Homo sapiens: one gene and its partner. The protein of the gene in region 1 interacts with the protein of each later gene in a pairwise test. Each region holds a gene or a part of one and is shown on either strand. Other genes may lie near its edges.

What was found. The genes of interacting proteins can lie anywhere in the genome.
Region 2: the proteins of LMO4 (region 1) and ZNF213 interact in binary tests that used the Homo sapiens proteins (3 or more experiments, as listed by UniProt).

What each region holds. Positions count from the first base shown.
Region 1 is NC_000001.11:87,326,643-87,330,389, forward strand, and holds the start of LMO4 (LIM domain transcription factor LMO4), read left to right. Parts: upstream 1-2,237; 5' UTR 2,238-2,602; intron 2,603-3,747. UniProt on the Homo sapiens protein: Transcription cofactor. Plays a role in establishing motor neuron identity, in concert with MNX1, acting, at least in part, to disrupt LDB1-LHX3 complexes thereby negatively modulating interneuron genes in motor neurons.
Region 2 is NC_000016.10:3,132,872-3,136,618, forward strand, and holds the start of ZNF213 (zinc finger protein 213), read left to right. Parts: upstream 1-2,157; 5' UTR 2,158-2,516; exon of another isoform or gene 2,517-2,574; intron 2,575-2,585; exon of another isoform or gene 2,586-3,747. UniProt on the Homo sapiens protein: May be involved in transcriptional regulation.

The sequences.
Region 1 (3,747 bases):
AAAGAAAAAATAAAGACCATTTGGCTTAATTCTCTCATTTGTGGATGAGAAAATTAAGGCCCAGAGACGGAAATTTACTTGCACATGACAAATCATAACTTAATTGTAGCCCACTAAGATCTTGTGTCATCTCCTTTTATTATAAATTATTTAAAAAGTGAAAATGAACCAGGGGATTCAAATGTATTATTTGTTTATGGTGTTCCTCTCCTCATCTGGTTTAATTGAGTTTTCTTGACTAACCTTCAAGCAGCATTACATCTTTTCTAAGTTGGTCCTCTTTAATCATGCCCATCTGTAGCTGTTTTCTGTGTAGGACATTTTAATTACTATTATAGTTTTAATGACTTTTTTTTAAAAAAAGTTTTTTATATGTGCACAAGGTGAATTCATCATAGCAGTGCAACTTTAAATACAAATCAATAAAATTAATTCATTTAATTTTAAGGTGCTAGAATTAAAAAATGAGTATTTGAATTGATATTTAAAATGCCCTCTACCTGACTGTATGGGCAATAATTATTCTTTCTTATGCAGCCTTATTAATTTTGATGGTTTGAAAGACAGAAATCCCCCAAATAGACACTAAAACCCTAAATGTTCAACATCTGCATTGTCTCGCCAGATTCTCCTTCAGGTTCCTTTCCTCAATCTAGCAGTACTGTGTGTAACACAATATGAAAACTTGCCCCACAAGGCTGGTTTTACTTAATGATACTTAGCAGAAGGGCTTTGCACTTTCATGATAATTTCCACCAGAAAAATCTCTCTGGAACTTACTAACAATAATCAGGCCTAATATTAGCCTCAGTCTGGAGATTTATTTAACCTATTTGGCAGAGTAGATAAAGTCGAATGCCTAGGTATTCAAGCATCTAGGCTGTGCTTCGGCCTTGGAAAAAGACTCTCAGGCTAGCACCCTAAAAGCATTCCTCAAAACTTGATTTATACTAGAAGTGACATTTCTTACTCTCTAGAGGCTGTGAGATTGCAAATCTTGCAATTACTTCCATTGCTTTTGGGGGCTGTGAGAATTTCCGCCTCTCATCCTCCACAGTGAGGAGGGTAGTCGGGAAAGGCTTTCTCCCTTAAGTTTTCGTCAACTTTGAAAATAAGGACTGTGCTCCCTACATCACCAGCAATTGACAAGGATCCAGGAAATGCCTGCTAGGCACTTTCAAACTCGGAAAAATGGGAGTATGAGGGAGGCTAAGTAGGCAGTATTTAGCTAGCAACTATTATTTCCTTTATGTTTCTACCTTGTTAACTAAGCTTCCACTACGGTTCATAAATCTCCAATATCGTGAATTAAAGAAACAACAACAAAAATCCTCTTCTGTGTGCTTGTGCGTGAGGGGATAGAAGTCCACTGCCCTAAGATGCAGGACTTATCTTCCCAAACAGGAAGAGACCCATTTCTGAGAAAGATGGTAAGTTTCCTAAGGGTCTCCTCTCAGATAGAGGGGATGGCAGTCCCCGAGGGGCGAGCGGGCGCGGGTCCTCAGGGTCCCCGTGCGCTGAGAAGGCAGGTGAGGCCCCGCCCTGCGTCTCGACTCCGGATCCCGGGTCGCGAAGGGCAGCCCAAGCGGGTCCCCGGCCCCAGGCGCCCGGGTCACTTCACCCCACCTGATTCGGGCCCTTCCCTTCTCCTCTGTCGGCCAGCTCTGCCGCCTCGCTCTCTCTCCCGCCCCCCGAGTCTCGTTTCAGTCATCCCTTTGTCCTTCCCCGGATTGGCAGGTTTTATTATTCCGCCTGAACAATCCGGCCGCCCAGTGGCTGAGGGTCGCTGACGTCGGAGGCAGAGCCGGGGAGTAGTTGGGATTTTGCTCTGTCAGTAACACATGTGTAAGAGCCGCGGAGGGAGCGAGCGAGCCGGCTAGAGGCCAGCGCCGCCGCCGCCGCCGCCTCCGAGCCGGGCAGCAACAGCCCCGGCAGCGGCGCAGGCTCCAGCGCGCCGGGCCCGGCCGGCCGCAGCCCCCGACGCCTGGGTGCGCCTGCCTGCCGGCCTCCGCACCGTCCGCCGCCGCTCCCGGGGCTGTTGTGTCTGCGACTGCTCCCGGCCGGAGGTGCAGGGAGCTCAGCCGAGCCGCCGCTGCCATCCCGGAGCGAGCAAGCGAGCGAGCGCGCGGGAGGGAGGAAGGCGGCGGCGGAGGAGGAGGAGGAGCGGGAGGAGCGCGGGCGGGGGCGGGGGCCCCCGGGCGGGGGAATATACAAAGTGAAGCCACATTGCCAAACTTGCAGCAGCGATTGCAGCAGTTGCTGCCGCTGCGCCGCGCCTGAAGCCGCGCCGCGCGGGCCGAGGGCTCCTGCAGCTGCTCGCGCGCAGTCGGAGGCGGAGAAGGACGAAGACTGAGACTGACACTTCTGCTCCCGGCCGCCCGGCACTTACGCGGGGGCCCCCCAACCCGCCCCAGAGCAACGCGATTTAAAAAAAAAAAAAAAGCCGCCCTTAGCCCCCTCCTCCCCTTTCCTGCTTCTGCGAGAACTCCCTCCCTCCCTCCAGCTCCGCCAGCCCAGGCGCCCCTTCCCTGGAAGCCGAGCGGCTTCGCTCGCATTTCACCGCCGCCGCCTCTCGCAATATTGCAATATAGGGGAAAAGCAGGTAAGGGGGCGGGTGGAGAGCCGCGGGCCGGGAGGTGGGAGAGGGAGGGAGGGGGTCGATTCGGGCCAGGGCTGTTTTCTTTGGCTTCCTTCCCCTGACCGTCCCAAATTGCAAGTAAACAATACGTCGGCTTAGATAAAGCGCGAGTCTGAAACTACCGAGGCCGGCCTGCGAGCTAGCGCGGAGGGCAGCCCCGGGCCGCCAGCTTTGTAGCGGTTCCTGCTTACAAAAGGGCTCTTCTTGGAAACGGGGCTGGTGGGGACCGTAGAGGGGGTGGGGATATTTCTAGTTCATAAGGGAAAGGCAAGGGGTGCTTAGATGAGGATTTTAAGTATGAGAAGTAGTGTGTTTGGGGGGGTGGGGGTGGGGATAGTCACGATACCCCCCCTCCCTTCTAGTAAACACTATTTTTGAAACAGTGGCAGGAAGGATCTAAGTGAGCAGGATTCGGTATTGCTGGTTCTTTTAAAAAAATTCTTCTTGGCTTATAAGTCTTTTGTTCCAATCCAGGAGAAATACGGTGAATCACCTAATTAAAATCAAGACATGAATTAAGCATCCATTTTTGTACTACAAATTGCCAGCGTTACGTTTGTCCCTCCCTTGGTCTCCATTAAAAAACACCAGAGACGTTGTTAAAGGGGGGCAGATTTTGCCTCTAGCTGCCAGTTCTGCTTTCTATTTCACTGACTATCCCAGGACCTAAATTGCTTGGCTATGTAATTACTAGAGTATAAGCCTATTTAACTTAAAAGCTTTCTTTTTTTTTTTTTTTTTTCCAACTCTAAATGAAACTTGATGAGGGCCCGTCCTTAGTTATCAGGGGAGTCAGTTTCTGGTCAGTCTTCTTGATTCATCTCTTTTAGATTTAATCAGCATTAAGGTATTGCTTGTCCTTAAGAGCTTTAGCTAATGGGGTTACTGGATGCTTTTCTCAGTGTAATGTTTCCTTTTCAAAAAAAAAATACATATATATTTACCTCTCACTAAAGATGGGGGCGGGGAAGAGCTTGGAATCTCCTCCCTCACTCTCCTTTTAAAAAGGAATTCGGAGCGATTAAAACGTTGGGGGAAACAGTTTAAAGATCTAGGGCAGGAAATGCAGATTCATTTGGGTTAGGGCTGAAATTGTAACAAAAAGCAAT
Region 2 (3,747 bases), on another chromosome or scaffold:
AGCTGAGGCAGGCGGATCCCTTGAGGTCTGGAGTTCAAGACCAGCCTGGCTAACCTGGTGAAACCCCATCTCTACTAAAAATACAAAAATTAGCCTGGTGTGGTGGCGTGCACCTGTAATCCCAGCTACTAGGGAGGCTGAGATGGGAGGATCGCTTGAACCTGGGAGGTGGAGGTTGCAGTGAGCCATGAAATTGCACTACCGCACCAAAAAAAAAAAAAAAAAATTTAATTACTGTGGACCTTATGGGGACGCTACATCAAGCTGTTTCCCAATTGAATTGGAATGCCACAACAACGGCTGAACACTGTAAATGTCCAAATCTGGAGGAACAGAGGAAGGTAAACATTTGATTCTCAAGTGGAAGTTCAAAGCATTACATTCTTTCTGGAGGACAGTTTGGAAACATGTACACAAAGTAATCTGGCAATTCCATTTCTAGTTTTTCTCAGGGAAATGTTCAAGCAAATGAATAAAGGTGTACGTAGAAGCATATCTGCAAATACAGAAAGATGGAAAAAATCTAAATGTCCAAGGGTGGGGGACTTAAAATATGAAAATTCCGCCAGGCACGGTGGCTCACGTCTGTAATCTCAGCACTTTGGGAGGCCGAGGCGGGCAGATCACCTGAGGTCAGGAGTTCGAGACCAGCCTGACCAACACGGAGAAACCCCGTCTCTACTAAAAATACAAAATTAGCCGGGCGTGGTGACACATGCCTGTAATCCTAGCTACTCGGGAGGCTGAGGCAGAAGAATCGCTTGAATCCAGGAGGCGGAGGTTGCAGTGAGCCAAGATCGCGCCACTGCAGTCCAGCCTGGGTGACAGAGCGAGACTCTGTCTCAAAAAAAAAAAAAAAATATATATATATATATATATATATATATACACACATATATAATATATATTCACAGGCATATAACTGTCTGAACAGTAAAACTGTAAGAACACACTAAAACATGAATAGTACTTATTCCTGGATGGTCGTATTAGAAATGTTTTTTACCTTCATTCATTAAACAAATATTTACTAAGCATCTACCATGTGCCAGGCACAATTCTAGGTGCTTGTCATAGGGCATTAAAAAGTGTCTGCCCTCATGAACACTTATCGTTGAGTCGTGGGAAACACGTATATGTCAGGTAGTGATAAACATTAGGGAGAAAAGTTAACGCCGAGCACAGGTTGTTTACAGAGCTGGGGAAGGCCTCCTTGAGGGGGTGACATATGAGCAGAATGAGGGAGCAAGCCTTGTGGCTATCACGAGAAAGCTATCTTTATGGTTTTCCAATTAATTTTCTAAATTTTCTCTTCCAAGCATGCAACACCTACATAATTAAGACAAAACAAACCAAAAAAACTCTTTCCATTTATGAAAGAGATCTGGAGCCTGAAATCATCTCCGGGTCGAGGCGTGGAGAGAGTGGGAGAGGATCCGAGGGTATGGAAAGGACCCCGAGCCCCCCTGCTCTAGATCCCTCCGGGCCGTGGGACCCCTGACGCCCAGCAGCAACTCGTGGACAAAGCAGCTGGTGAGAGAACGCGGGACTCCGGCCAGGTCAGTGTCCCGCTTGCCGCGTCCTGCTAAGGCGACCCGAAGACAGAGGATCGCCGCAGGAGGCTCCGCGCCCCTTACCCGAGGGCACTTCCCAGCAAGCTCGACGCCTCTCCAGGGAATTGGGAGGAGCGGGACCCAAGAGGCTAGAAAAGAGTCTCCCCGGCCCGAGCTCCACGGCCCGCGGCCTTTCGGCCCTCACCTACTAGTTGGCAAAGAAAGACCGTGGCAGAAGGAAGAGGCCGCTCCAGCGCATCCCTTCGGGCGGAGCAGAAGCTCCACTTGTGGCTAGGCCATGTGCCCTCTCCGTTCCTCGGGCCAGCCTTGGCTTCCCCTTTTTGTCGCTCAAGGGCCAGGGTCGCAAGGAAATGTGAAAAAAAAGCGGAGACAAAAGAGAACGAGGTAAATCTAGATGCAGAGCCTCGCCTTTCCTCCCGGGTGCAGGTGTATGACGCGTATGGAGTTTCTGTCTTCTAATAGGCAGCCTGAGAATTCTTCCTGTTCATTGGCCATCGGTCATGGAGAAGGCGGGCTCAGTGGACGAACGGCTTTCTGGGAGCTGGGGAATGCTTGCGTAGCGTAGTTTCCCAGCGAGCCCCGCGAGGACTTCCGGCGCCGGGAGCTCGCGGCGGAAGTGGGATCTCCTGGGCCGTAGTGGGCGTTGTGTGTTTCGGGGGCGGGGGCGGGGGCGGGGGCCGGGGCGGGGACGGGGCCTCTGGCCGCCTGGCTCCAACATCAAGCACCGGGCTCCGAGTGGCCGGGATCAGCGCCCCGAGGCAGAGGCCGGAGGGCGCGCGCACTGCTAGGAAGTGCTGGTCCCCCGCGCCGCTCTGCCAGCTTGGTCCCCCGGCAGACGCCCCTGTACGATCGCCGCTCGCCCCGCGGGCGAGGCTGCGGTGGACAGCGCGGGGCTCCGGCTGGCTCGCCTTCCCGCCTGCCGTGTCCTGCTGAGCGACCCTGGTGAGTCCTGGCCCTCTTCGAGGAAAGTCTTCTTCGAAGTCACCAGAGGATGAGAATGGTGCGCGCACCTTTCAGGGGTCTTGTGAGGAGCAGAATAAATAAAGTGCTTAGGATGGACTAAAGAATTGGAAACAACCCGAATGCATCACTCGAGTATTGATTAAGAAACTAGAGCATATCCATACCGCGGAAGCTCATAGTGCCGCTAATGTCTGTGCAGTAAGGTCTCATTTATGTAGAAACACATCAAGCACCTTTTCTCCCCGCTATGGATGACTTTTTTAGTAAAAGCACAGGAAAAGGTCTGGGACGTCATTTGTCAGACTGTTAAGTCGGGGGGTACAATGGTATTGAGGAAGGGAGAGTTTTACAGATTTCTATATTGTTTGAATCTTCCCTTTTTTATTAAGATGGTTTGTATTTTTTTCATTTTCTTTTTACTTTTCTTTTCTTTCTTTTTTTTTTTTTTTTGAGATGGTCTCACTCTGTTGCCCAGGCTGGAGTACAGTGGTGCGATCATAGCTCATTGCAACCTCAAACTCCTGGACTCAAGCAATCTTTCCTCCTCAGCCTCCCCAGTAGCTGGGACTACAGGAGCCCCACCTGGCTTTTTTTGTTTTTTGGTACAGATGGCGTCTCACATTGTCTTCCCAAAGGGGTCTTGAACCCCTGGCCTCAAGCAATCATCCTGTGTCTGTCTCCCAAAATGCTGGGATTACAGGCATAAGCCACCAAGCCCGGCCAGTTTGTATTTTTATTGTTGAAACAAAAAATCGATTACTGAAAATTGCATAATACACTTTTCAGTAGAGAGTAACAATGTAAGGTATAAATGTGTCATACATTTATATGTACCTGTGGATAAATGGCTTTGGATGGTGTCTGTAAGCCCTTCTGTGACACCTCAGGGCCAGATGTGTTTTGGAATTCAGAGGTTTTCAAATTTGAGAAAGATAATATAGTGCACAGACGATATATCAAGCACATCTCCAGAGGGATCTGGGGCAACACTAAATAATGAAACATATCAGTTAAAATTTTTTAATTAGGCCGGGCGCAGTGGCTCACGCCTGTAATCCCAGCACTTTAGGAGGCCGAGGCGGGTGGATCACAAGGTCAGGAGTTTGAGACCATCCTGGCCAACATGGTGAAACCTCGTCTCTACTAAAAATACAAAAAATTAGCTGGACGTGGTAGCTGGTGCCTGTAGTCCCAGCTACTTGGGAGGCTG